4 linked regions of the Homo sapiens genome follow. The protein of the gene in region 2 purifies or fractionates together with the protein of the main gene of each other region. This does not show direct contact. Each region holds a gene or a part of one and is shown on either strand. Other genes may lie near its edges.

What was found.
Region 1: the proteins of STAT3 (region 2) and TRIM59 purify together in Homo sapiens (affinity purification with western blotting; 4 studies listed by BioGRID). This does not show direct contact.
Region 3: the proteins of STAT3 (region 2) and TCEAL1 purify together in Homo sapiens (affinity purification with mass spectrometry; 3 studies listed by BioGRID and IntAct, with this or other methods). This does not show direct contact.
Region 4: the proteins of STAT3 (region 2) and PIAS3 purify together in Homo sapiens (affinity purification with western blotting; 5 studies listed by BioGRID). This does not show direct contact.

What each region holds. Positions count from the first base shown.
Region 1 is NC_000003.12:160,446,787-160,454,776, reverse strand, and holds the start of TRIM59 (tripartite motif-containing protein 59), read left to right. Parts: upstream 1-4,990; 5' UTR 4,991-5,060; intron 5,061-5,981; 5' UTR 5,982-6,051; intron 6,052-7,990. UniProt on the Homo sapiens protein: E3 ubiquitin ligase involved in different processes such as development and immune response. Serves as a negative regulator for innate immune signaling pathways by suppressing RLR-induced activation of IRF3/7 and NF-kappa-B via interaction with adapter ECSIT.
Region 2 is NC_000017.11:42,329,443-42,336,470, forward strand, and holds part of STAT3 (signal transducer and activator of transcription 3), read right to left. Parts: intron 4,608-7,028; coding exon 4,449-4,607; intron 4,324-4,448; coding exon 4,231-4,323; intron 2,090-4,230; coding exon 2,030-2,089; intron 350-2,029; coding exon of another isoform or gene 335-349; coding exon 305-334; intron 206-304; coding exon 112-205; intron 16-111; coding exon 1-15. UniProt on the Homo sapiens protein: Signal transducer and transcription activator that mediates cellular responses to interleukins, KITLG/SCF, LEP and other growth factors. Once activated, recruits coactivators, such as NCOA1 or MED1, to the promoter region of the target gene.
Region 3 is NC_000023.11:103,624,209-103,631,480, forward strand, and holds TCEAL1 (transcription elongation factor A protein-like 1), read left to right. Parts: upstream 1-4,766; 5' UTR 4,767-4,817; intron 4,818-5,285; 5' UTR 5,286-5,365; intron 5,366-5,676; 5' UTR 5,677-5,708; coding exon 5,709-6,188; 3' UTR 6,189-6,745; downstream 6,746-7,272.
Region 4 is NC_000001.11:145,849,057-145,856,084, forward strand, and holds part of PIAS3 (E3 SUMO-protein ligase PIAS3), read right to left. Parts: coding exon 7,012-7,028; intron 6,771-7,011; coding exon 6,680-6,770; intron 5,825-6,679; coding exon 5,690-5,824; intron 5,508-5,689; coding exon 5,402-5,507; intron 4,831-5,401; coding exon 4,757-4,830; intron 4,609-4,756; coding exon 4,448-4,608; intron 2,098-4,447; coding exon 1,964-2,097; intron 1,884-1,963; coding exon 1,715-1,883; intron 1,590-1,714; exon of another isoform or gene 1,531-1,589; coding exon 1,397-1,530; intron 1,214-1,396; coding exon 1,176-1,213; intron 657-1,175; coding exon 390-656; 3' UTR 1-389. UniProt on the Homo sapiens protein: Functions as an E3-type small ubiquitin-like modifier (SUMO) ligase, stabilizing the interaction between UBE2I and the substrate, and as a SUMO-tethering factor.

The sequences.
Region 1 (7,990 bases), on a different chromosome or scaffold from region 2:
GTGCAGGGATTACAGGCATGAGCCACCGCGCTCGGCCTGGTTGTCATAAAATTAATGTTATATTGCCTCCTCTTCCACACCTGGTAATAACTGCAAATGTTTATCATCTTTTATCTCTTTCCAATATTCTATCAAAAGATTACTGGAAGTAAGGCTGGGTGCGGTGGCTCAAGCCTGTAATCCCAGCACTTTGGGAGGCCAAGGTGGGTGGATCACTTGAGGTCAGGAGTTCAAGACCAGTCTGGTCAACATGGTGAAACCCCATCTCTACTAAAAATACAAAAATTAGTGGGACACAGTGGTACATGCCTGTAATCCCAGCTACTTGGGAGGCTGAGGCAGGAGAATCGCTTAAACCTGGGAGGCAGAAGTTGTAGTGAGCCGAGATCGCGCCACTGCACTCCAGCCTGGGCAACAGAGCAAGACTCCATCTTCCAAAAAAAAAAAAAAGAGAGAGACACCCCCCACCCTCCGCCCAAGCAGCTCAACTGTCCTCTTCCCCACCATTTTTTTGGGTGGCTGAGCAACTTATCACCTGAGTTTTAGGCTTATGGATTTGAAGCATGTACTCCTGCATTTGAGTATTAGTTCTCCTGTCCCACCTTCCCAGAAAAACATTATCTTTTATAGAGTATGTTAATCACAGTCCACAAAACCAAATATGTCAAGTTGCCTGCCACCACTGAGGCCACCATTGTTTTTGTAGGCTCCTGTGGTTCTCCACACCATCCCAGCCTCCTCAACCCCCAAATTATTGCTGGACTACAGAAATCTTGAATCTTTGGCAGGGTTGGGAACCCATGGGCCTCTAAAGCAGACTCCCTGGAGGCACCAATATAACCCTTCCCTTTTGGTGTCATAGTTTTCCCCCACTAGGACCCGAATCATCTCTATTTTAGGGGCAAACAATTCTTTCTGCTTCTCTCAAGCATTCGGCCTCTTCCTTCAAATATTTTTTCTTTTTTTTCAGGTTGAGATTCTTTATTCTGGAGGTAGGAAGGGGGTCAGCATGCTCAGGTAGGGAGGGTCCAGCCCAGCTCCTCCAGCCCCCCAGTGCTTGCCCAGCCCCAATAAGTTACCCAGTTAATCAGCTGCCCTCCCTCCTGGGTCCGTCTGTCCTTCTGTTCCACCCTAGACAGGGCCAACCTGGCTCAATACAAGGGCTGCTTGTCCCCAGCCTGTGGGCAGTGCCACATGGCAGGCTGGGGGAGAGATGAAGCAGCAGGACCATGCCCTGGGTCTGGAGGGGCAGAGGGGCCACTTCTGGCTTCAAGCGGTCAGGACTTGGAAAACCACATGCTGGGCAGGCCTGGGGCCCAGTCCCACAAGGTCTGTGCCTGAAAAGAGGTGGTAGTTGGGGTGGGGCCGCCATCACACCTCAATTGCTGGGTCTGAGCCCTGGCCCTGCCGCTGCAGCTGCTCCTTCTGCTTCATCTTGGGCTTCGCTGTCCGTGTATGTCACACCAGTACCCGAGTGCAGTTGGCAGCCCGTGGCTCCAGGTCCTTGGGATCCACAAGGTGGCTTAGAAGACTGCTCTCCAGGTGGCTCCGGGGAGCAGTGGAATCAAACTGGGCATTGGGCTTAGCTAACAGCAAGGGCAGGGCCACAGCAAATCCGGCCATATCCACAGGGAAGGGCCCGTTGGGCTCCCATGCTGTGTGGAAGCCCACTACCCGGCTGTCCTGTACCTGAGGGCCCTTGACTCGCAGGCCACCCACCAGCCCCACAGGCCACACTGAGACACCACGGGTCCAGCGCATCTCCTCAAACAGCTCCCAGCTGTAGGTGTTGCCACTGTCAGCAAAGTACACGACTCCTTGGGTCCCTGGTGGTGATGGGTCCTTCTTCCCACCCACAGCACTCCCTCTGCCCCGGAGCCAGTCCAGGGCCTTGTTCCGCTGCTCGACACCATGGGGATGAACCCAGCCAGGCTTGCCCTCCCGAAGCCGCTGGGCTTTGGGCGTGAGGACCACCAGGTGTGTGAAGAGGAGGCCAGAGGCAGCCAGCAGCCCTGAGACCAGCGGGGTGGGACCCTCAGCATCCTCCACCAGCAGTCAATGCAGCCGGGGCACCAGGCTCAGTGTCTGGGACAGCCGTACCAACTCTGCCTTCTGTACCAGCCTGGCATAGGTGGGGGTAACAACATAGATAGTAGGCAGGGCCTCGGGTTCAGGGGGCTGGGCAGGGGCAGGGGGTGGCCGTCGGAGTTCCGCTTGCAGCTGGGAAATCCTCAGATCCTTCTGCCGTAGCTGCTCAGCTGCTGCCCGCAGGGGAGGAAGGCAGTCACATGGCTGGCCAGCGCGTAGAGGAGGCCGGCGATCGACACCAGGAAGTAGGCGAGAAACACGTTCTTCACCTTCAGCTTCATGGCCACGCCGCTGCCGCCTGCGCCCCAGCAGGCGGGGTCTCTCAAATATTATTTTTCTCCATGGGCTCAGGCTTTTTGGGAAACAACAGCCAGTAAGTCTAGTGTGAGGTTCTTCAGTTTTCTTGCTACATACATAACCGTTTTGAGGTAAGAAAGCACAGAGGGGAAAACAGGTGAAAAACATTAAAGCTCAGAAACATTTTCAGCCATATTAATTCAATTCCAGAAGCAATTAAACTTTGTTTAAAGACAATAATTTAATAGAAATATAGTACATTTACTGCTATGGAAAAATAATTCATAATACGTTGGGTTTTTTTGTTTGTTTTTGAGACAGGGTCTCACTCAGCTGCCCAGGCTGGAGTGCAGTGGTGTGATCATAACTCACTGTGGCCCTGATTTCCTGGGCTCAAGCAATCTTCCTGCCTCAGTCTTCCAAGTAGCTGGGACTACAGGTGTGAGCCACCACTCCGGCTAATTATTTTATTTTTTGTAGAGCTGGGTTCTCACTTTGTGGCCCAGACTGCTCTCAAATTCCCGGGCTCAAGCAGTTCTTCCACTTTGGCCTCCCAAAGTGCTGGAATTACACACATGAGCCACCACGCCTGTCCCACATGTTGTTTTGACAGGAAGTTACAAAGATGTCTATCAGGATGACTCCAATGTTTAATAGAAAATGTACATAAAGTCAAAACGAATATTTACCACCATGAAACAGTAGCTACCACTACAATTCACACTTCATAAGCAACCTTTTAAGGAGCTGAATTGGTGAAGCTATCTGAGATTGACTAAGGCCTAATATTGCCTTACTTTCTGCTTTATATCTTTAATATTTTCTGTAATTTACTGAATAAAAGCCTAGGACCTGGATGTACTGCAATGTGCAGTATATAGAGCTCATAGCTTTTTTTTTTTTCTGGAATGCAGTGGTGCCATTTTGGCTCACTGCAACCTCCGCCTCCCGGGTTCAAGCGATTCTCCTGCCCCAGCCTCCCAACTAGCTGGAATGACAGGTGCCTGCCACCATGCCCGGCTAATTTTTGTATTTTTAGTAGAGACGGGGTTTCACCATGTTGGCCAGGCTGGTCTCGAACTCCTGACCTCAGGTGATCCACCTGCCTTGGCCTCCAGAAAGTGCTGGGATTACAGGCCTGGGCCACTGCACCTGGCCTAGAGCCCATATCTTTATTTAGCACATTAGTAAACAAAATGACTTTATAGTTATTGGAAGTTAAATAATTCAAACTTAAAGCTGTTGGAACTTTATTCCGAGCCTTGGGAGGAATGTGGCTACAGCCTGAGTCAAGCAGCAGGCATCTGCAACGTCTGCCTTTTGTTTCTATAAATAATTAAAATAGGAGGACCAAACCATACCAGAGATACAACCCCCTGAGATCACTACCCCCCCTCATGGAGTAACAAAATACTTTTTCTTGGAATGTAGTAATCTGTAACCTACCAAATAGCTGTAAGTATGCACTGGTCTCTTAGGGGAAATGAAATCCTGTTAAAATTTGTCTCTGGCCACCTAGGCGAAACCCTAACTTCTTCACTTTGGAATGCTAACCCCATTTGGAGCTGGTGTCTCCTGGGTGGCTACCCTCAAGCCTTACGCTGGAATAAACTCTATCCTTAATCATATTTCCAGAACCTCACTATTTAAGGTTGACAGGAGAGGGAAGCGGTGATGTCTTGAGATAAAGCTGAATAAAGTTTCTCAAGAAAAAAAGGGAAAGGAACCTCTAAGCTGTACGTTGTTTTCTAACTCTAGGGAGTTAGAGGTGAAGTAGGAACTTGAAGTTGGAAGTGTTGAGTTGGACAGCCCTCATCTCTAGGCAATACTTTCATAAAGTGGAAAAACGGGGGAAGAGGACGAAGGCTAGGGAGAGACGCAGGGATCTACCCAACCCAGTCCTGAGTTTCCCACTCGCTCTTGGAGTTGAGTACAAAGAGCGCTCCAAAGCCCCTTCTCCTGTGCTCAGCCCAGTGCTCCGGTGGGTCAGGTCTCCGGAATGCGTAAACAAAAGCAAACAGCTGAGCGGCGGAGGGCGCAGGCGACAGATGTGGGTGTTCCCTGAGAATGTGTGGCGACTTCCCGGAGCAGCGGGTCTGTGAGGCAACGATGGAAGACACTGCGCTCCACAGCATAGCAGGAGGCCCCGCCCCGTGTGGCGCCAAGTAAAAGATAATTCCTCAGAAGCCGTCGGCCACCGGCGCTTCGCCTCGTCCCGCGCCAGGCCCAGCCTCTCCCCCAGACCACCGGTGCCATGCGGATTCCCCAGGCGGGACCCCAGCTCACGAGGCCCACTGGCCGAAGCTCCCCACAGGATAGAGAGCCGCTCCTGCGAGGCCAAGCTTCCGAGAGGCGGCCTGCGCCTAGCACGCAGGCGCGGAAAGCTGGGCGCCAGCCTTAAACTGACTCCCGCCACCTGCCTCGGGCCGCGCCGTCCACCGTTTACTTTCGAACGAGCCCAGCAATAGTTCCCATTGGCCGATGCCTTGCAGTTGAATGTTGCCTGCAGACTGCGCCTGCGCTGCGAGGCTCCGCGAGGCCCCGCCCGGTCTGGGCACCTGAAGCCCTTCGGGGCAGAGGAGGGCGGGGACTCGGGGCGGCTCTCAGCATCCGCCTGGAGCTCGTGGCGCTGTGTTTCCGTGCTGTGGAGTTGCCTGGTCCGCTTCCTCCCCGCGGTGAGTCTAAGGACCTTTACGGATGCGGAGAAGGTGGTTCTGAGTCCTTTTTCTTTTCCTGTAGCACAGTCTGGTGTGCCTAGTGTGTTGGGCGGGGAGTCCTGGGGGCGCGACGATGGAGGGAGTGGCTTGGGACCTGCACTCATTCCCTCTTGTCCCATACTGGAGTTTGGGGAGCCACTTTCCCGTCCCTCCACTGTGGAGCTGCGTTCCTGTGAGGGAGGAGGCCCTCTGTGGTGGCGAGGGTGAGCTGAGCGGACGCCGCCGAGTCGGTCAGTCCCGCGGGGTTGGGGACGGGCGGGTGCCGAGGTGGAGGCGCGTTAGGAGGGAGGCCTGGGAGAGTGGAGCTTTGAGAAGGGGAAGGGAAGAGTACTGCCATTTTGAGCCCCTTTGTGGGAGGTGCTCGCAGGACTTAAGTGAGGTAGGTGCAGTTACCCATTTTACAGATGTGAAGCCTCACTTTTGAGAGGTATTTGGTAATACTGACCCAGGTCCCACAGCATTGAAATGGCAGAACAGAGAGATGAGCAAACTATACTAAATCAGTTATAATTTAGAGCTGGCAAGGTATTTTACTCCCATGGATGCTTTTGTCTTGCAGTTAATTTTAAGCACTCTAAAATGACCGTGAATGTTTTTTCTGCCATCACCATTGTTGGGTAATATTGTCGAGAGCTCATAAGCTACTTGACGTTGTGAAAAGAGGTCCTTTGTGACAGTCTGTTTGGTCAGAGTTAGGATTTTCAAGGAACAAGCGATACCTCTACTGCAGCTCCAGCAACTGTGTTGGTGTTTGTGGCTTTTCTGAAAACACGATGAAGCATCGTGAAGATAAATATCAAAGACAGTGAACTAACAACCATTTTTATGACATGAGACAATAAATTGAAAACATTAAAGATAACATTATTTTAATTTTAGAATAAGAATAAAAGATTCTGGAGGAGTTGGAGAAGAGTGTATTCAGCCCCCAAACCACGAGATCAACAAAGTAGGTAATCTGGGAGATTAAATAAATATGAAAAACAATTAAGTTTTTACAGAGTGTATGATTTAAACTACAAAGTGAAATTTAGAAGTCTTTTGAAAAAACATTGTGTTGGCGGTGTATAAAACTCCAACCATTTTATCGAAGGAGCGGAGCATAAAGTGAAAAATAAACAACTCCCTTCTCTGATCTGTACCTTAAAAGTAGTCACTTAACTCTTTTGTACATCCTTCTAGAAATTTTACAAGAATGTGTACATCTCAAAACACATGCAAAGTTGTTATTTTATACATACAGATCTGCAGAACTACACAAAACTGCAAATTAAGTTACCTGGATACTTTTTCACTATGCATTCATGTATTGGTCTTTTTAAATGAGTAAGTAGCTATTTAATCTGGCAAGGTGAAATTTTGATTTTAGGTGATGTTAGTTTTGACATTGCCTTTCACTAAACACGTTGATGAATATTTCCCACCAGATATATTTTTACTTTGAAAAGTACAGCAAAAGCAATTAAAGCCTTAATTTCTCAAGTCAATTCCGGTTAAATTGAATTAATAGTCTTTTTTTGTTTTGTTTCTAGTTTTTATTTTTATTTTTTAGTTTAGGGAAACAGGTTGATATCAAAATGAAAGAAAATAGTACAGATGGACAAAGAGATTTAAAATCAGCTGACCATAGGATTTTTTTAATTTGAAAAAGTTAAGGTGATCTCTCACTATTTTTGTATATTTATATGTGACAGAATTATTTTTAAAAATCTTGTTTCTCAGACTTTCTGCGATAATGTTAAAAAAATCTTATATATGTTTATAAATGGTGCAGTTGTAGTTATTTCTTAAGTAAGTCTTGACTTGCATGAAATGTATTTCTTCTTTATCAGTTAGGTCCACAAAGATGTGAGCCCCAGTTTGGGTGGTGGCACCACTTGAATTTTCCCATACTTAAAGCTGACTCACTAGAAGTCTTGGGACAAGTCATCGAATTCTATAATGTAATAAATATATTTTCCTTTCAGAGGTTGTGAAATGTAATGAACGTTTTACAACTGTTCATGTTTAGAGTTGAAAGGCAGGAAAGCATTAGTGAATTAAAACTTAAAAACTGGTTTACACAGGAGAATGGGTAATGATATTTTCGGTGCTATTTAATCATCTATTATACTGTCTATTACCTAATATGCCAGTTAGACATCAGGGAGGCTCACTAGTGAATTGGCCCTCTGGAGAAAGACTTAATAAAAAGTTTGGAAATTCAGAAATGTATTTGTTTTGACACTTAAACACACTAGACATTAGTGAAATAATTTGTAAGTAGAGTGATTTAGCCTCAGGTTTCTTTCTGAGAAGATTCATTTTTTTATATTAATATTTCTCGGTTTTAAAAGAGAAGCAGGAAATCTTGAACTTGGTTTTTACATGAGCTTAGTACTCACTAGAGGAAAATACATTTTACATGGATTATTTTACTTTTTTGCTTTTTAAAAACATACAGTAGTATAAATTGATTCAAATTCATTTAGCAAAAGGAAGACTGGATAATAGGCAAGACGCTTGAAAATTTTTTAAAGTTTTTTTTTTATTGTGTAAAATATGCTAAACATAAAATTTACCATTTTAATCTTTTTAAGTATGCAGTTTGGTGGTATTAAATACATTCAAATTGTTTTGTAATTATCACCATCAACTATCTCCGTTAACTTTTTCATCTTCCCAAACTGAAACTGTGTACCCATTAAACCAGCAGTCCTCAACCTTTTTGGCACCAGGGACCGGTCTTGTGGAAGGCAATTTTTCTGTGGACGGGTGGGGGTGGGTGGTGCATGGTTTTGGGATAAAACTGTTCTACCGCACATCATCAGGCATTAGTTAGATTCTCACAGTGAGCCACAACCTAGATCCCTCGCGTGCGCAGTTCACAGTAGGGTTCACGCTGTTAT
Region 2 (7,028 bases):
CTGCTCCCTCAGGGTCTGTAAGAAAAGAAAAAGGCAGGTGTCCTGTGAGGCTCTCCCTAGCCCTCTCCGGCAGCCAGAGGCCCTTTGTGAAGGGGAGCTCCTCCCACATACCAAGTGTTTGAATTCTGCAGAGAGGCTGCCGTTGTTGGATTCTTCCATGTTCATCACTTTTGTGTTTGTGCCCAGAATGTTAAATTTCCGGGATCTGAATCACAGGGGAACAATCAACTATGTAGGTGACCAAGTAGCCGGAGGATGAAGTTAGGTTAAACGGAACAAAAGGAAGCCTCTAGGCTGAACTTACCCTCTGAGAGCTGCAACGTCCCCAGAGTCTCTGTAAGAACACAGACTGTTGTTAATAAAATAGGCTCTGTGTTTCTTCAAAAAGCCTACTTTGACCACCTGTTATTTACTGTCATGAAAAAACCTCTGTGCTCCTGGGCATTTCTTTAAACTATTCAGTTACAGTTGATCAGCGCAACATAACACCTCTGCGTAGCAGGCACAGTTGGTTGCCTCCCCATAGGAAGGGGAACCTATGTTTCATATTGCATATGTACTTATTAAACCTACCACCTTCGTCAACTCCCTTATTTCATTATTTTCCAGTGCATCCTCATGAAATTTCCACATAATTACATCAACTAAAAATAAGAATGCATTTTATCTTTTCTTTTTTCTTTTTTTTTTTTTGAGATAGTTTCGCTCTTGTTGCCCAGGCTGGAGTGCAATGGTGTGATCTCGGCTCACCACAACCTCCACCTCCTGAGTTCAAGTGATTCTCCTGCCTCAGCCTCCCGTGTAGCTGGGATTACGGGCATGCGCCAACACACCTGGCTAATTTTGTATTTTTAGTAGAGACAAGGTTTCTCCATGTTGGTCGGGCTGGTTTCGAACTCTCGACCTCAGGTGATCTGCCCACCTCAGCCTCCCAAAGTGCTGAGATTACAGGCGTGAGCCACCGCGCCCAGCCACATTTTCTCTTTTCTTTTCTTTTTTTTTTTTTTTGAGATGGAGTCTCTGTCGCCCAGGCTGGAGTGCAGTGGTGTGATCTTGGCTCACTGCAAACTCCACCTCCCAGGTTCATGCCATTCTCCTGCCTCAGCCTCCTGAGTAGCTGGGACTACAGGTGCCCGCCACCACGCCCAGCTAGTTTTTTTGTATTTTTAGTAGAGACGGGGTTTCACCGTGTTACCCAGGATGGTCTCGATCTCCTGACCTCGTGATCCGCCCGCCTCGGCCTCCCAAAGTGCTGGGATTACAGGCATGAGCCACCGCGCCCGGCCCACATTTTCTCTTTTCTAATGTCGTCAAAGGGTATATGTATTTTACATCCTGAAAGGTATTGTGAAATTTTGCGTATTCCATTATATGGTAAAGTGTGGAACAATTAAAAAAAAGAGATCTATTCTTTCCACATGCTATGTATGGAAAGAATATATAACGACGTTTCGGTCAACAACAAAATGCATATATGATGGTGGTCCCATAAGATTATCATGGAGCTGAAAAATTCCTACTTCATTGAGATGTGTTACAATTGCCTACGGTATTCAGCACAGTAACATACTGTACAGGTTTACAGCCTACGACCAGTAGGCTCTGCCACATAGCGTAGGTGTGCAGTAGGTTCTGCCACCCAGGTTTGTGTAAGGACTATATACTCTACAACATTTGCACAACAAAATTGCCTAATGATACATTTTGCAGAACGTATCCCAGTCGTTAATTAACACATGATCTCAGTCTTATATATAATATGCATGAATGACATGTACAAGTAAAAAACTAAACAAGGAAAAGAGGGACTGGTTGTCACAATAGCAACCACAAATCAAATCTGTACCCCCAGCTTTGTGGCTTTGTTCAGACACGTAAATGACAATGCACCCCAAGGCTTTTGAAAACTTTTGTCCACAAAATGAAGATCTCTGAATAAAGACAGAGTCTCTAGTTCAAATGATGTCTGTCAAAGTTCTCATTTTTCTATTCCTCATTTGAAAAACAGAGCTAAGATAGGAGTACTTACTTGTCAATGCACACTTTAATTTTAAGCTGATAATTCAACTCAGGGAATTTGACCAGCAACCTATTTAAAAAGAAAAAATCCAAGGAAAAAAAGTCAGTAACTCTCCCATAACCTTTTCTTGAAGAAATGTAAAATTCATAATTCTTCATTTCCAACAGGTAAATAGGCCAAGCTGTCTATAATTACAGGCTCACATCTATAATCTCAGCACTGTGGGAGGCCAAGCTGGGAGGATCCCTTGAGCCCAGGAGTTCCATAACAGTCTGGGCAACAAAGTGAGAGCCCACATCTATAAAAAATTTAAAAATTAGCGGGGTGTGGTAGCATGTACCTGTAGTCGCAGTTACTCGGGAGGCTGAGGCAAGAGGATCACTTGTGCCCAGGAGTTCAAGGCTACAGTGATCTATGATCATGCCACTGCACTCTAGCCTAGATGACAGAGCGAGATCCTATCTCTCTTTCTCTTTTTTTTTTTTTGAGACAGTTTCTCTCGTTACCCAGGCTGGAGTGCAATGGCGCAATCTCCGTTCACCGCAACCTCCGCCTCCTGGGTTCAAGTGATTCTCCTGCCTCAGCCTCTCAAGTAGCTGGGATTACAGGCGCGCGCCACCACGCTCAGCTAATTTTGTATTTTTAGTAGAGACAGAGTTTCTCCATGTTGGTCAGGATGGTCTCGAACTCCCGACCTCAGGTGATCCACCCACCTTGGCCTCCCAAAGTGCTGGGATTACAGGCGAGAGCCACCGTGCCTGGCCCCTATCTCTCTCTTTAAAAAAATTAAAATAGGGCTGGGTGCGGTGACTCACACCTGTAATCCCAGCACTTTGGGAGGCCAAGGCAGGTGGATCACAAGGTCAGGAGTTCGAGACCAGCCTGGCCAAGATGGTGAAACCCCGTCTCTACTAAAAATACAAAAATCAGCCGGGCATGGTGGCAGGTACCTGTAATCCCAGCTACTTGGGAGGCTGAGGCAGGAGAATCACTTGAACCCAGGAGGCAGAGGCTGCAGTGATCCGAGATCACACCTCAGCACTCTAGCCTGGGTGATAGAGAAAGACTCCATCTCAAAAAAAAAAAAAAAAAAAAAAAGGCCGAGCGTGGTGGCTCACATCTGTAATCCCAGCACTTTTGGAGGCCGGGGTGGGTGGATTACTGAGGTCAGGAGTTTTGAGACCAGCCTGGCCAACATGGAGAAACCCTGTCTCTACTAAAAATACAAAAATTAGCCGGGCATGGTGGAGTGTGCCGGTCCAGCTACTCAGGGAGGCTAAGGCAGGAGAATCGCTTGAACCTGGGAGGTGGAGGTTGCAGTGAGTTGAGATTGCAACACGCACTCTGGCCTGGCCGAAAGAGCGAGACTCTGTCTCAAAAAAAAAAAAATTAGCCGGGTGTGGTGGCACGCACCTCTATTCCCAGTTACTCAGGAGGCTGAGGCACAAGAATCACTTGAACCTGGGAGATGGAGGTTGCAGTGAGCTGAGATCATGCCACTGCACACCAGCCTGGGTGAGAGTGAGACCCTGTCTCAAACAAAAACAAAAGATGAGTATCACTCCTTCAAGCCAAAGGTACTGAGAAAACATCTAAGAACTAACAACTTAAAGTTGTGAGAGATTCACAAAAGGATAATCAAAGCCATATAATGAAAAATATTACAGGAACACATGCTGTGCAGCTGGCATTTTGTTCTATTAATCCTGAAACCGAACACCATACTAAGTTTCTGAGGAGGGAAATTTTGCTGCAGAAGGTCAAAACCCCAGCACACCTGTTCTGACTTGAGTGTGAAAGTAACACCTCACCCTACAGGCCCACCACCCACCTGCCCTGGGGCCTCTCAGCTTCCCCATCACTAAGCCTTACTCTTTCCCTTAAAATCCACAGGGAAGAGTAGCCTCAAAGAACAGAAAATAGATGACATTATTTTGTCCCTTGGGCAGAAGGAGAAGCTGTGGCCTGAGACTCCAGGTCTACAATCATAGGAATATGCCCAGGTACCTTCAAAAAGATGACTGCTCTTTTGCTTTTGACATCAGAATCAGAGAGCAAGCAGATAGTATGGCAACAAATTTCAACCCCGCAACAGTGTACTGCCTGTGACACCACACCTGGAAAGAATGACCCTGGCCACCAACTCTACCCTCACCCTAACAGTGTCCCTCAGTAAAATCTCTACTGGAAATGGAAGTGGCATGGCCTACCTGACTTTAGTAGTGAACTGGACGCCGGTCTTGATGACGAGGGGCCGGTCAGGATGCATGGGCATGCAGGGCTGCCGCTCCACCACAAAGGCACTGAGGAAAGAGAAGATGGGCTCACGCGCCACGGCCATGACCAGAAGTCAGCCCGCCTCTCACTCTACCACGTGAGTCTTTAGGTATTTTTTAGATGAGGGAAAGGGACAAGGATGCTAAATTACCTTTTCATTAAGTTTCTAAACAGCTCCACGATTCTCTCCTCCAGCATCGGCCGGTGCTGTACAATGGGGTCCCCTTTGTAGGAAACTTTTTGCTGCAACTCCTCCAGTTTCTTAATTTGTTGACGGGTCTGAAGTTGAGATTCTGCTAATGACGTTATCCTGCCAATAAATTAAGAAAGATGCTAATTACCAAAGTGAATGTATACAGGTGAGATGGAGAAGGGGAAGGAAATACTGAAGACATGGAGACCACTACAATAAGAACAAGGAATTTTTTTATTGTGGTGAAATATATATAGCATGAAATTTACAATTTTTCATCTTAAGTTTACAGTTCAGTGACATTAAGAAAAGAGGAATTTTTCACCATGTTGGGTGGATGCTGAAAAAATAAATAAAAAAAGAAAATAATTTATTTATTTATTTATTTTTTGAGCTGGAGTGCAGTGGTGCAATCTCGGCTCACTGCAACCTCCATTTCCCGGGTTCAAGTGATTCTCCTGCCTGAGCCTCCTGAGAGATTACAGGTGTAAGCCACTGCGCCTGGCCTTTTTTTTTTTTTTTTTTTTTTTGAGATAGAGTCTTACTCTGTTGCCCAGGCTGGAGTGCAGTGGCACAGTCTCAGCTCACTGCAACCTCCGCCTCCCAAGTTCAAGTGATTCTCCTGCCTCAGCCTCCCAAGTAGCTGGGATTACAGGCACCCACCACCACTCCCGGATAATTTTTGCATTTTTAGTAGAGATGGGATTTTGCCTTGTTGGCCAGGCTGGTCTTGAACTCCTGACCTCAGGTGATCCATCTGCCTCGACCTCCCGAAGTACTGGCATTACAGGTGTGAGCCACCATGCCTGGCCAGAAAATAATTTATTTTACCTTTTATTACTAGTCCCTTCCTAAAATCTCAAATTTCTAAGAGGGGGCTGGGCACACAAGAAGTATTAAAATTTATACCACTAGGAGGCATTGATGGAGTTATCACTGGAAAATGACAAGCATCTGAGCCCAGATATGCAGAACACGAAATATGGAATTTAGCACTTACTTTACTCATCCTAACTTGTCTATGAACATAAAGACTCAGAAAAAGAGATTAGACAGCTCCCAAAGATGGGTTTGAGCCAGCTCTGTCACACACTATCTGTGCAAGCTTTGCCAGGCCCTTCACCATCATGGGCCTTAGCATCCCCTTGCATGAAGAGAAGGGCTTGAACTACATGAGCCCTTTCTTTTCTTTCTTTCTTTTTTTTTTTTTGAGACAGGGTCCCACTCTGTGGCCTAGTGCAGTGCAATGGCATGATCATAGCTCACTGCCTCCTCCAACTCCTGGACATGAGTGATCCTCCTACCTCAGCTTCCTGAGTAGCTAGAACTATAGGTGTGTGCCACCATGCCTGTTTAGTTTAGTTTAGTTTTTTGAGATGGAGTCTCACTCTGTCACCCAGGCTGAAGTGTAATGGCACATGTCTAGTTTTTTAAATTTTTGTAGGGATGGGATCTCACTTTGTTGCCCAGGCTGGTCTCAAACTCCTGGGTTCAAGTGATCCTCCCGACTCTGCCTCCCAAAGCATTGGGATTTACAGGCGTGAGCCACAACACCCAATCCCCATAAGCCTTTTCAATGTCAGCCTTCAACTGATCAAAGGACATGACATTATGTTTCAAAATATTGATAACATGCACAAGGAATAAGTGAATAGAGAGGGAGAAAAAGCTCATTAAATCTATCTCCAAGAATAGAGATATTAGGCCAGGTGCAGTGGCTGACACCTGTAATCCCAAAAATTTGAGAGGCCGAGGCAGGTCGATCTACTAAAATACAAAAAAATAGCCAGGCATGGTGGCATGGGCCTGTAATCCCAGCTACTTGGAAGGTTGTGACTAAGAATCGCTTGAACCTGGGAGGAGGAGGTTGCAGTAAGCCAAGATCATGCCACTGCACTCTAACCTGGGTGACAGAGTGAGACTCTGTCTCAAAAAAATTAAAAAAAGAGAGAAGTTAGCATCATTCCATCATTCTTTGATGGTTTATCACTAGTGTAACAAAGACCAAAAGACCAGAAAGACAGAAAGTGAAAGGAGAGGGAGGGGGACCGCTGCAGGGATTTCTGAACTCCTGAGCTCTTTTCTGGCACTTCTATCCTCCCATTCCCAGAACTTAAGCTTCTTCGTTCCCTGGTCAGGAAGCATTTAAAACTGCTTTCAGTAAATTAACAACACTCAGGGTTAGTGAGGATATGAATAGACAGGCATTCTCATGTAGAGTTGCGCTAAATTTCCAGTGCAGGCTCTGTATCTCAAGTTTCTCCTAAGGCAAGCTGGTGCAACATGCTCACTATAGGGCCTTGCACAGGAAGGGTTGCAGTAAGATATGCTGGATGAAGGTAAAAGTGCAAATTACAGAAAAGCATATAAAGGAAGATCCTGGGCTGGGCACGGCAGCTCACATCTATAATTCCAGAGCTTTTGAGAGGCCGAAGTGGGATGATCCCTTGAGCCCAGGAATTTGAGACCAGCCCAGGCAACAAAGTAAGACCCTGTCTCTATAAAAAATTTAAAAATTAGCCAGGTGTGGTGGTGCAT
Region 3 (7,272 bases), on a different chromosome or scaffold from region 2:
AGGCTAAGCTGTGGCTCTGTTGCAGCCCAGCAGGGAAGGCCAAAATAGAATGAGTTATGTGCTCTGAGCTTGTCTGGATTCTGGGAAATGCAGCAGCAGCCACAGTCCGCAGGTGGTCCCCACTCAGGCCAAATCGTGTTCGTAAGCAAAGGCCCTCCCACCTCAGTATGGTGGGCAGTATGGAATCATTGCTTCCTAGAGCTAGAAGGGACCTCATTCATGGTTCTACCACAGCCCTCGCCCCCACCATTTAGGGAGAAAAATGATACAAATAGAGGCAAGGAGAGGGGTAGGAGGCTGCCACACCTCCAGAGCCTCCAGGGAGTGAATGACAGCATAAGTCTTGCCCAGACCCAAGCCTAGTACTGTCTCTCTTCAGCCCAGGTCTGGACCCACCTTCCCTGTCCCTGTGCATTTCCAACAGCCTGAGTTGCTACTTAGCCTTTCCTCAGAGCCCCTTCCTTGTTTCTCTGAGCATATACAGGGTGTGTGTGTGTGTGTGTGTGTGTGTGTGTGTGTGTGCGTGTGTGCGTGTGTGTGTTTGAGCCCCAGTTAGGATGAGGCCACAAGCAGAAACAGAAAAGAGGAGGCTCCTGTCATTGCTTTTCCTACTTGGGAATTTCCCCTGGGGCAGGGGTAGGGGAGGAGCCCATGAGAGTCACAGGCTGGACAGGGCCTGCTGCAGTCAACAGGTCCAGGTCTGAGAGCAGGTACTGCCATTAGTGCCATTAGGAAAGAATGCAGAGGCAGCAGCCACAGAGGGAACGTCTGGGCTGGAGAGGGCAGAACTCCTCAAGTCCAGGCAGACAGAGCCTGCAAAGTGAAACCAAGGGGACTCGCAAAGAAGGAGGGTTCTGTTCCTGCCACAGAAGTGCAGCCTCCCCAGCAACAGGAATCCCTGGAGGAGAAACCCACCCTGGGCTTTCTCAGATCCCCCAGAGAAAGGCCACACCACTTGGAGACTGTTGTCATGGCAGCAGCTGCCCAGTGCTGTGTGTAAATGTGGGTGGAGCCCACTGCCCAGGAGCAGTTTTACATAGTGGTTAAAGGTACAATCTCTCATGCCACACTGCCTATGTTTTGTTTTTTTTGTTTTCTTTTGTTTTCAGATGGAATCTCTTATTGGCCAGGCTGGAGTACAGTGGCACAATCACGGCTCACTGAAGCCTTGAGTTCCCAGGCCTCTAACCTCGGCCTCCCAAGGAACTGGACCACCTGGGACCGCAGGTGTGCACCACCATGCCTGGCTAATTTTTATCGTTTCTAGAGACAGGATCTCACTATGTTACCCAGGCTGGTCTTGAATTCCTGGGCTCAAGCTATTCTCCCATCATGGCCTCCCAAAGTGTTGGGATTACAGGCGTGAGCCACTGCACCTAGCCTTAGGTTTTAAATCCCATCTCAGCTACTTACTATCATCTGTGTTTCCATGGGAACAATTTGTCACCTCCCAGAGCTCAGTTGTCACACTTTTGAAATGGGTTTCAAAACAAACACTCATTAGTAATAATGGACCAAGCAATATACCCTCATAGGACCCTAAATCAAGGGTATCAAATCAAATCCATCAGAAGGACAGCCCCACCCCAACCCCAACCCTACACAAACAAGTAGCAGATCACACTTCTTTGTAACAAATGATTGTCATTTGGTAGCAGAATCACCTTTACCTTATTCCCTCTTGAGAGTCCTTTCTCTTAAGGGAACCCGAGATCAGCTACTGCTGGGCAGACTTAGAGCCCACATGGAGACTCGGTCTTCATTCCTCCTCTCCTGCTTCTATTTCCTCACACCTCCTTATCTGCCCTCCATATTTACTAAGTTCTCATCAAAGTTTAATTTATACCGGTGCAGGAGCTTTCAGGGACTATAGTGTCTTCTATTAGCAGCACTAGAAAGCAAGCAATCTGAGAAGCCACATGAGAGATGAGAGGAAGGGAACTAGCTCGGCAGGGCATACTCCTGGTTTCACATGCAATAAGGAAAAGAAATTTTTTTCACTTGGAGTCAGAACTCTCTGCTGAGATACCTATAGATCTTTCCCGAGTTTGCTGACTTTATCACCCTATTTAGTACTAGTGGCATGCTTTAAATTAATGATTTGCAGCTAATATACAGAATGATAGAATCTGGATTCAAAGATTGAGGGAGTGAATCTAATGAGACAAAATTTAACCCAGAAAAAATTAGAAGCTTCTATACTTGAGTTAAAACTAAAAAGATTTACAGAAGTGGATTAACAGCTTGAAGTATGAAATAAGGGAGGGGTCTAGTTGACTGCAACTTAAACTGGATTCAATTGTGTGATATGGCATTCACAAAATCTACTATAATTTTAGGATGCATCCATAGATGTATAGCACCTATTCTAAAATGAAGGAGGTGGTAAGATCACTCCATTCTGCACTAGGCAGTATATTCAGTGTTTTCAGAGACATTTACACATTCAGGAATGTGTAGAATAATGAATGACTTTGAAAAAATATGTCACATCAGAAATGGCTGAAATAACTGGGGAGGTTAAACCCCCCAAAAAAGTCTTGGTGAGAACATAATTCTTTAAGGATTATGTGAGATGGCATATTGAAAATACTTAGTGCAATGCCTGGCATAAAGTACACAATTAATCTTAATATTAAAAGGATGTTAATTAGTAGTATTGTTAGCACTGTGTCATACTATTATTATTACTATTATTATAGTTAATGCTTATAGAGTGCTTTCTATGTGCTAGGCTCTATTCCAGATCCTTTACATAGGTTGACTCATTGACTCAGTTATTCCTCTTACAATTCTATGAGGTAGGTACTATTATTGTCTCCAATGTTGTAGATGAGGAAGCTGAGTCACAGAAGATTGAGTAGATTGCCTAGTGTGTCTCACAGAATGGAAGGGGAAAGAACCAGAATAGAAGCTGTGGCAATTTTAAGCTGTCAAGGATGAAAGGTACTTTTATTATTTTATACCTGTTCTGTACCACTCCACAGGGCAGAGCCAGGACCAATGTGTGTAAACTACTGGGAGGCAGATTTTAACTCAACAGAAGCAAAAATCAATTAATTAATTAATTTTAAAACTCTGAATGATTAGAACTTTCTGAGATTTCAGTGAGATATCTTATAAGGCAGTGAGTTCTCCATCACAGGATTTAAGAAGAATAAGGATAGAAATGAATGAAATGGGACTTCTCTAGGAAAGAAACTATACAAATGAGAAACCAACCCTTGATGAAAAAATAAGAAGGCATAGTGAAACTTGGTTTTAAAGACACATCTCACAGAGAAATTGGAAAGTAAAACAGTTATAAAAAAGATATGAAGGTAAACTAATATTTGTCTAAATGCTATCTCAACACAAAGTTAATCAGATATCAGAGAAAAGCAACAAACAGTTCTTAAAAGGGGAAATTTCACATGAATTTCTGTTCAGAAACTTACTAAACAGCCTGGCTTTAAAACAAAATCCCAGGATCCTCACAGATCAGATGGTCATCTACCCTGAAAGTGTAAAACACAGAGGGAAGGGAAGTAGTATGCTCTGTAGGGGAAAGAGCATCTGCATAAGAAAGTAGCATCCAGGCTGATGTGAGTAGATGAGAGGCAGGCATAAGGTTAAAGATCATAAAATACTGTTAGATAAAAAAAAATACATATTGCAATGACAATTGAAAATGCTAGCATAATTGTAGTCCTGCTATTCAGTATGTGGTCAACAGAATTATTGCATAGTTTAATATGGAATGCCCTCCCTGCTGCATCTATCTTTTGGGGTCCAGCAGTCCCAGAACTCAAATATTTGTTGATTTAGTGAATTAATATAAACTTCCTCAACCAGAAGCACCAAGAGGTGGCTGGTTAAGGATTGAGAGTCCCAGTAAAATCTATTTATTCTATTATGAATAACTACTGAATAATTTATATATATGTACACATGTATATAAATATATTTTATAATCTATTCAGTGTGTATACATGCATATATATGCGTGTATATATATACACGCATATATATGTGTGTATATATATACACACATAGAGAGAATAATGCCAAGCTCTCCACCAAGGACTATCCCATTTCAGATAATAAGTGTTCTGGACTGTTTGTACTTAGATGGACAAATACGTATTTGATTTATGAAAATCAAAGTATTCATTCTTTTTAGATCTACAAACTTTACAAACTCAACTCTTTCTACAGGTCTCGAACTGAATGATTACCAATTTAGATCTGGGGGCTCAAAAAAACAAAATGTGATGTCAAGAAAAAGTGAAAGATTGTCTCCCATGAAAGTGACAAGAGATGAAACATGCTGAATGAGCCTAAATGGACATGATGGAGATACGGATGTGGATTAAAACTGAGAGTGTTGGGATATAAGGATATAATACTGATTTATGAAGGTGAACAGTCAAACGTCAGTGCAGGATCTGAACTGCAGGGGAAATAAGGGGCCTTGGTGGCTAAGGAAGGGAGGAGGGGAGAAAGAGGTGGTACTAGGGGAAGTAGCACAGAGGAAGAGGCAATACTACCCGAGACTAGATGCGGACCGTCTCTGGCAACCAGGAAAAGGCAAATACAAAGAGAGGTGAGTGACAATGCCTGGTGTGTCTCGGGTCAGAGAACACTAGCAGGCACTAGCAGGTGGCTGCGGCAGGGCCGCAGATCAAAGTGGTAACTGGGGATCTGAGTTCGGCAGTGACGCGCGTCCCTCACGTGACCAGGAGCCTCTATGTGCCCAAGTCCCTCTCGTCCCGGTCTTTTTTTTGCCTGTCCACCATCTCCCTATTACCCTTTGGTCGAGAGGGAAAGCAGAAGAAGTAAGTTCCCTCTACCCTCTTAAATCGGTGTGAGTGTCGGCGCTGCCTAGTAACCCGGGGAATGGGGTTGACAGAATCGGGATGGCGGAGTCCAGGCCTTTCCCTAAGCTCCAGCCCCGCCCCCCGCGCCCACATTTCTGTGCAAAATATGGTGGTCTTTGGGGCGGGGTGGGGAGGCGAGTACCTCCCCCGTCCCCCGGGAGGGGGGTACAGACATTTGGAAATAGTTTCTAAAAATGCTTCGCTTCCACTTCTCATCTGAAAAGAAATGGCAAGCTTTGCGGGGTGGGGAGGTGGGAGCACGGAGGACGAAGCTTGACGCAGGGGCTGAGACGAAAAGAGAACCCGAGAGCTAGGGGAGCGTGCAGGCAGTGGCTGGTGCCCAGAAAGTGGGGGGTGGGGGGTGTCAGTCAGTCCGTCCCTCCTCCCCACTCCCCGCCCCCTACCCTGTCTTGCGTCTGTGTGCAGGTCTGCTGGTCACAGCGGGGCACCTCGAGGAGAGGACGACTAGGAGCACACGGCCCGGAAAGGTCCAGGTCAGGGAAGGGGTACGCAGTGGGCCGGGACTGGGGCGCGAGGGTGGACGCCGAAAGGCATGGAGTCTGCAGGCCGCACTGTCCCGCCCCTGTCACTGCGGGCGAGGCCTGTAGCAAAGCCTGCTGGGAAAATGGTGGGCTTTCGGGAAGGAGGGGGCGACCGGGAAGCGGCGGAGTCGGGAGAGCCGGAGAGCCTCTGGGAAAGCGCAAGGTTGAGGACCTGGCCCCCGAATCAGGAAAAGGCAGGTATTGGAACCCACGGCCTGGGTGTTAGTCCAGCCGCTTAGTATTCTGACTCTATTCTGCCTTTCTTGTCTCCTAAGAATAACTGTGCTTGAAGAAGAAAATTCCCAACATGGACAAACCACGCAAAGAAAATGAAGAAGAGCCGCAGAGCGCGCCCAAGACCGATGAGGAGAGGCCTCCGGTGGAGCACTCTCCCGAAAAGCAGTCCCCCGAGGAGCAGTCTTCGGAGGAGCAGTCCTCGGAGGAGGAGTTCTTTCCTGAGGAGCTCTTGCCTGAGCTCCTGCCTGAGATGCTCCTCTCGGAGGAGCGCCCTCCGCAGGAGGGTCTTTCCAGGAAGGACCTGTTTGAGGGGCGCCCTCCCATGGAGCAGCCTCCTTGTGGAGTAGGAAAACATAAGCTTGAAGAAGGAAGCTTTAAAGAAAGGTTGGCTCGTTCTCGCCCGCAATTTAGAGGGGACATACATGGCAGAAATTTAAGCAATGAGGAGATGATACAGGCAGCAGATGAGCTAGAAGAGATGAAAAGAGTAAGAAACAAACTGATGATAATGCACTGGAAGGCAAAACGGAGCCGTCCTTATCCTATTTAATGTGTTCGGCCTTTAATTCTGTTTTGCCTGCTAATAGTATTGCCATTGCCACCTGGACTTTCTGTTTGCATTTTCTTAATGCCTTTTCCCATATTCTGAATTTTAACTTTTTGTGAGGCTTTATTTTAGATGTTTAGCATGTAACTCGCTTAAAGTTGAGGTTTCCCCCTAAAATCTACAAGTTTCCCTCTTTCAGTCATGAGCCCTACACATTTGCATGAAAGATGTACATTATATATTGTGAAACGAAAAAAGCAATTTTCAAATGGTATATATTGTATCCCATTTTTGTAAAAAAAATGTATATTTATATATTAATATGCAAAGAAAAAGCTAAAAGTATAGACTTCAAAGGCATAACAGTGGTTGTGTGGTAAGATAATAGGTGATTTTTTAAATTTTTGTTTTATCTGAATTTCTCATTTTTTCAGGACAAACGTTTTACTTGTGTTGCAAAAATATATAATGAAAAAATCACACAATTTTGAAGAAAACTGTCAATCAGCTTATAACGACAATGTGGCACTTAATAAATACTTGTCAGAACTTTAAAAAAAGTGAATCCTATGTTTTTTTCTGAATCTCTTAGGCACAAATATTAGCCAGATATGGATTATATTTAATAGTCATTTTGTTCTCATTTAAATAGGAATAATACTTGCTTTACAGTGCTACTGTGGGACCAGATGAGAAAAAGGTTGTGTGAGCTATGTTCGGGGTCTTTATTCCACCTGCACAGGCAGGACCCCAACCCCTATAGATTCCCTGCAGACATAGGGAAGGTACCCAAAGGAGATCTCACTTGTGCTCACAAACAATTCCGGTGAGATTCCAAGTGAGTGCCACATTCTATTCATGTCCTGCTGTACTCTCAGATACCTACCGTATCTGCTAGGCACAGCTGCTCCTTCTCCTGGGTCCTGATCCTTCCACTGGCTCTCATCCCTGCTGACGTGCTGGACTGCTTAAGGTACAAAGCCTCACTGATTGCTCTGGAGTCCCTGGTGGGCCCAAGCTGAATTGTGTCTCCTGCAGATATATGAATGCCCTTCTTCCAGCTTTAATATTGCACTTAGCTAGGAGG
Region 4 (7,028 bases), on a different chromosome or scaffold from region 2:
AATAAGAAGAGAGAGCATTTGGGGTTCAAGAGAGGTGCCCCTTCCCCAAGAGGCTCTAGACATAGTCAAGGCTGAGGGTTCAGCCCTTCTCCTAGCTCACATACCATCCCATTTGCCTCCCACTGCCTAGGTTAACATACCCAAAGGAATGTGCCACCATCTAAAGAACATTTCCAGAAACAGACCCCAGTGTCCTTAAAAAGAGGTTAAATATTAACCCTTTGGGTGCTGGCCTTGTCAGGCAGAGATGAGGCCAAAAGTAGGCATCTGTGAAGGTCTGTCTGGCCCTTGGCCAGAGCCCCCAGAGGGATCAGAGTAGCTGGGGTTGGGACTCCACAGCATACTTGCTCAGTGTTGGGGGACAGCGAAGTTTCCATAATCCAGGGAACTCAGTCCAGGGAAATGATGTCTGACCGACAGCCAGTCAAAGAGGGACCTGAGGGCAGGGGTCCTCCATGCCCCTCCCTCAAGGCCCCCCCAGGGGCCACAATGCTGCTGACACGGCCAGGAGGGGGCGCCGGAGTGGCGCTGCAGTGGGAGCTCCCCAGCGTGGGGGCCAGTGGGCCCAGAAAGTGAGAAGGGGTCCCTCGGTACTGGAAGAAGTGGCCAAGGGCATCCTGTTCATCTAGTGAGGTGATGACAGAGGGGCCATAGTGCTAGGAAGAATCAAGGGCATAGTTTAAGATCTCAATCCCGACTTCCCCACCTCCCAGTCACTCATCTCAGAAATGCCGTATGAGAGCAATCAACCCCTGTGGATCCGAAGGTATTCTCTTGAGAAGCAGGAGAGCCTCTCCCTCTTTCCCCTACTTCCCTACACCCTTCCCCTTTCCCTGCCTTGAGAGAGCTCCTCCAACTTGTTAGGTTCTTGGCTTTGTGGGCGTCTGAAATGTGTGGAATGTCCGGTTAGAGCAGGCATGGTGCTCTAAGTGCACACGGGGGTAGGGGTGAGTAGGCCAGGGCAGAAAAGTAACAGGGGATCTAGGAAGGAGGCCTAAGTAGGAATCTCAGGAACTACCAGTGGGGCTGAGGAGATAATAAGATACCTACACCCCACTGCCCTCACGGGAAAGCAGATTTACATCCCCAGAGATCATAAGAGAGGGAGGGGCCCCATCAGTGTCTAGAAAGGAAGCTTCAGAGATCTGAGACCTTCTGAAGAAAGAACCACTTACCTGACTCTCTGTCTGAAGAAATGAAAATAAATCTAAACCTGGCAGGAAAAGAAAAATCAAAATTAACCTCCTATCTGACCCCTTTACCACCAAAAGACAAAGCACTGTGGACTGTGGCCCCTTGCAGGAGAAGCAGGAGGCTTTGAGAAGGAACAGGGGTTCTGATGTAGCTCTGGGGAGGGTGTGGCAGTGCAGGGTCCATCTTATGACCCATGTCATACCTTGGATGTCGGCTCCCAGTGGGAAGGCAGGTGGGTACTCATGTAGTGGGAGACTGGACAGGAAATCCCCACCCAACGTGCCCATAGCAGGGCTCCTTAGCACCGAGGATGGCTGGTGGCCAGATGTCAGGACTCTGTGGGTAGAGAGGAGCTGAGGCAGCCAGCAAACCACAGATGCCCTCACCCAGCTCAGGTCCCCAGGTTCCCTCTCTGTCCCCTCCACATTTCTCTTGCCCCAGGCTTTGTCCAATGATCAGAAAGCAATCCTGACTTCTTCCCCTGTCCGTTTTGCTGTAGACTCAGCCTATTTTCTCATACCCTTTGCTTCCAGGTAGGGCCGGGATGGCAGCTGAGGTGACAGAACAGTGCTTCTTGGTAGGGGGCAGATCCTCCTCATCTGATGAGCTTTCTATTGTCAAGTCAATAACTTCGACCTTCTTCTTATTCTCTGATGGATCTCCCCCCTGGACTGGGCTGTACTGGAGGCCTGTGGGTATTAAGAAGACTACGTCTCAGAGAAGAGGCCATCCAAGATTTAGCTTAGCTGGGGAACAGGGGGTCACTCACCATCCAGCCCATACCCTGGCGGGGGGCAAACCTCAGATGCCTCCTTCTTGGGTTTCATTGGGCACCAGGATCCATCTTCCATGAATTGGATCTCATCACAATCTGAACAGGAACTAAGAATCTCCATAAATAAACTGGGGGAAGAGAGAGATGAAAATTCACGGGGCTGGGAGATGAGCAGAACAGTAGCCAGAGTTCTGTAACTCACCTTCCTGTATCTCAGTTTCCTCATCTGTAAAATAAGAACATTATCCATCCTACTGGACCGCTCTGAGTTGTTGGAATCAAATAACACAAGGTATGTAAAAGAGCTTTGCAAAGTAAGTAATAGGTTTTAAAATAAATACAATCTGAGGCTGGGTGCAGTGGCTCACGCCTTTAATCCCAGCACTTTGGGAGGTACAGGCAGGTGAATCACTTGAGGCTGGGAGTTCAAGACCAGCCTGGCCAACATGGTGAAACCTCATCTCTACTAAAAATACAAAAATTAGCCAGGTGTGGTGGCACATGCCTATAATCCCAGCTACTTAGGAGGCTGAGGCACGAGAATCGCTTGAACCCAGGAGGCAGAGGTTGCAGTGAGCCTAGACCACACCACTGTTCTCCACCCTGGGAAACAGAGCAAGGCTCTGCCTCAAAAAAAAAAAAAAAAAAAAAGCCGGCGTGGTGGCTCACGCCTATAATCACACTTTCAGAGACTGAGGTGGGTGGATCACCTGAGGTCAGGAGTTCGAGACCAGCCTGGCCAACATGGTGAAACCCCATCTCTACCAAAAATACAAAATTAGCCGGATGTGGCGGCACATGCCTGTAATCCCAGCTACTCAGGAGGCTGAGGCAGGAGAATTGCTTGAACCCAGGAGGCAGAGGTTGCATGAGCTGAGATCACGAGACTGTGCCATACCACTCCAGCCTGGGTGACAGAGTGAAACACCGTCTCAAAAAAAAAAAAAAAAAAAATCTGAGCACTTACGTGTAGTATAAGGAACAAAAGGAGCAGAGACACAGAAGTCCATAAACCATCTCCAAAAGGCACTGGGTCTTTGGCTTTCTAAACACTTGTGTAAAAATAAATAAATAAAGGCACTAGGGGCCAGGCATGGTAGCTCATGCCTGCAATCCTAGCACTTTGGGAGGCCAAGGTGGGAGGATCACTTGAGGCCAGGAGGTCGAGGCTGCAGTGAGCTATGATTGTGCTACTATACTCCAGTCTGGGCAACAGAACGAGACCCTGTCTCAAAAACAAACAAACAAACAAAAAGTGGGGGAGCACTGGGAACAGGAACCATAATGTAGATTCCAAAAAGAGGTTAAGACTAGCAAGATCAAAAGATTAGAACATCCAGGCCCTGAAAAGAACCTTATTGCAATGCTCAGTGGGAAGTCAGGTAGTTGTTATAGGTGATATATTATGACAGTTCAGTACACTGGCTCTGCCACTTAACAATATAACCTTGAGCAAGGCTCAATCTCTCTCGGCCTCAGTTTCCTCATGTGTAATGATACTACCTATCTCATAGGGTTTTTTTTTTTCTTTTTTTTTTTCTGGGTGAGTGTCACTAGCCAATCATAGGATTATTTCTTTTTTTGAGACAGGGTCTCAATCTGTTGCCCAGGCTGGGGTGCAGTAATGCAATCATAGCTCACTGCAGCCTCAAACTCCTGGGTTCAAGCCATCCTCCTGCCTCAGCCTCCTGAGCAGCTAAGACTACAGTCATGAGCTATTATAACATGCCTGGCTAATTTTTTTAATTTTTTATAGAGAGAGGGTCTACTATGTTGCCCAGGCTGGTCTCAAACTCCTAGCCTCAAATGATCTTCCCATCTCAGCCTTCCAGTGTTGGAATTACAGGTAGGAGCCGAGTCCATAGGGTTATTGTGAGGATTCAATGAGATAACTCATGCAAAGTGCTCAGCAAGATGCCTTGTATATACTAAGTCCTTAATGTTGCCCTCCCCCTCCACACACATGCACATACACACACACACACACAGACTGGTAAAAGGGATAGATAAGGTGAGAATTGCAGTTCATGTGAGGGGAAGTAAGCCATATGAATTAAAAACCCTGAAGGAGGTGGTGGCTAAAAGAAAAAAGAAATATTATAGGCTGGGCATGTTGTCTCATGCCTGTAATCCCAGCACTTTAGGAGGCTGAAGTGGGCAGATCACCTGAGGTCAGGAGTTCAAGACCAGCCTGGCCAACATGGTGAAACCCAGTCTTTACTAAAAATACAAAAATTAGCCAGGCATGGTGGTGGGTGCCTGTAATCCCAGCTACTCAGGAGGCTGAGGCAGGAGTATCGCCTGAACCCGGGAGGTGGAGGTTGCAGTGAGCCAAGATTGTGCCACTGCACTCCAGCCTGGGGAACAGAGTAAGATTCCATCTCAAAAAAAAAAAAAAGAAAAGAAAAAGAAAAAGAAATAACCAAGAAAAGAGGTTCTAGTGGATGTCCTAGGTAAGAGGAAGCAAAATGGCCCTACCCATCAATGATAAGAGATTCATAGGGAGCCTTCTTGTCACACACAGGACATGTCCATGTAGGCTTCTTCTCATTCATCTGTAGATAAAGGGCAGCATCGAAGCTCTGCAGGTGGGCGCAGGTGAGGGCACGACAAGGGACAGTCAGGCGCATCTTCCCTAGCTGAGGAGAAGCAAGTTCTCTTGTCAGAGGCCCTACTCTGATTTCATCCCAGAAAACTTCACGCCAGTATCCCTAGGAACCCTCATCAAAGTCCACAGGCTAAACCCAACTCCCTTCCCACCCTGTTCCCTTCTCCCCTTTTACCCACCGGGCACATGAGTGACACCCGGAGACTTGTAGTGGCCACCTCACTGTCAGGGTCAGCAGTCAATTTCTCCTTGACTGAAACAAAAGTGAGGCCAGAGCCATGGGGTCAGCAAGGCTGGAGGAAGCCCAGGAGTTGGTAAGGCCAGGAACAGATGGCTCTGGCTGAGAGGCTGCTGGGTGGAGCGTCTTTGGGGGCCAGTGGGACGTCACATGGAAGTGGTCTGGGATATGGATGATGAAGGCTGGGTGTGGGGGATTTTCCCATCCCTGAAGATGCTTAAACATAGCGTGACACTCTGGCTATGTTAGAGATGATCTGGAGGAGTTGAAGCATCATGTGAGGGTTAGATTAGAGGACCCCTAAGATTCTTTCCAGTCCGGAGAGCCCATATTCTAGCAGGGCTGGAGTTAGGGACTGTGAGGTGCAAAGCAGATACATGATTGGAAATTCAAGGGTGCCTGGGAGTGGTCCAACTTCAACTATAAAGACTGGAAGACTGGTCAGGGGTAGAGGGGGAGGGTTGGGGTTCATGTGAGAAGGGGAGTAAGTTGTCAAAAAAGAGGTATGGGTTTAATTATGAAGGCTGGAGGGCCAGGAAGACTTGAATCCAGATCAGGTGGGGAAGAGAGGAAAGATGTTACTCACTCAGTGCCCGCGAGTGGTCTGGGTTCCGGATACCCTTTGCTCTGAGTTTTTGTAGAAGGGTTCCTGCAGTCAACTGCCTCACCAGGTACACAGACAAGGAGTAATTCTACTTGGAGGCAGGGGGTAGACAATTAGCCTCTGCTTCTCATACCACCACTGCCCACTTTTGTTCCATGAGGACCAGAGACAGACTCATAAAGAGGAAAATGCTTCCCCAACCCAGGACACTGGATGGTTCCCCTTCACCCTCAGCAGGCTTTTCCAGGCACCTGCTTTAGCTGTGCTCACCCGTCCGAACTCAGATGACCAATTGACCACAATGGTGTTGGGAACAGTGGCTGAGAGTCGAGCCAGGGGTGTGATGTTGATGGGGCGGCTGGGCCTCTTGGGCTCGGCCCCATTCTTGGTTGGGGGAAGGTAACCCTGGAGAAGGGAGGGATTGGTCAGTGGAGAAGTGGCTCTGGGAAGGGGCTCTGCTCTTTGAACAAAAGATATCTTGTCTCGGGTTATTCAATCCCTGGAGGGAAGGCCAACTCGCTCACTCACTGACCAAGGGGATGGAGGCCCATTCAGTGGCTCACAAAACTGGAGCACTGTCTAGGGTTATGTGTGGGGTTCACTCCTGGGGAGAAAGGAGAGCTTATTTATTGACTGAGAAAAAAGGAACTCACTGAGTCCCTGAGGAGGAGGAATAAGGATGCCTCACCTTTTCTAACTCTCAGCTCTGGGGTCAAGTCTTTCTGGCCGGGTGTACTGGCTCATGCCTGTAATCCCAGCACTTTAGGAAGCCGAGGTGGGTGGATCACCTGAGGTCAGGAGTTCGAGACCAGCCTAGCTAACATGGTAAAACTCCGTCTCTACTAAAAATACAAAAATTAGCCGGGCAGGGTGGTGGGCACCTGTAATCCCAGCTACTTGGGAGGCTGAGGCAAGAGAATTGCTTGAACTAGGGAGGCAGAGGTTGCAGTGAGCAGAGATTGCACCATTGCACTCCAGCCTGAGTGACAGAGCGAGTGACTCTGTCTCAAAAAAAAAAAACAAAAAAGAAGTCTTTCTTACATCTCGGGTTGAACTAATGTCCTCCTCCGAGTTCTCACAAAACCTTTGTTCAGCCCTATCTTAATACTCTCGAGATTCTATTGATTCAGTCAGTAAACTGAGCACCTACTATGTGCCACGCACTGTGCTAGGCATGTCTCTTTCAGAATAGGTTTGTAGTTAATATTTATGAACTGAAACGGTAAGGGATTACTGACAGAAGAAGGGGAGAGCATTTACCGGCAGGGGGCACAGTTTCCCATTGACCTTGACAAAGAGGTTGGGGGGAAAATAATCTTCCTGGGGGCAGCTGGTCTCACAGAGACAGAACCTGGTAAGAGATGAGAAAGGAAGAAAGAGTGGGAAGAAATTTCTTAACTTGAATCTGGCAGAGAGACAGGGAACCCCAGAAAATCAGTCATAGATGCCTGAAGCCCTCAGCATCCAACAAGAGTCGCAGGGCTGCAGTAGGCAGTGGCAGAGCAGGGACATCTCGTAAGGGTATCTGTCATACCCCTACTTCACTCCTACCCCCAGTGGGTACCCAGGATAGGCAGGGAGGATGAACTCACCTTAGCTGCACCTGTAT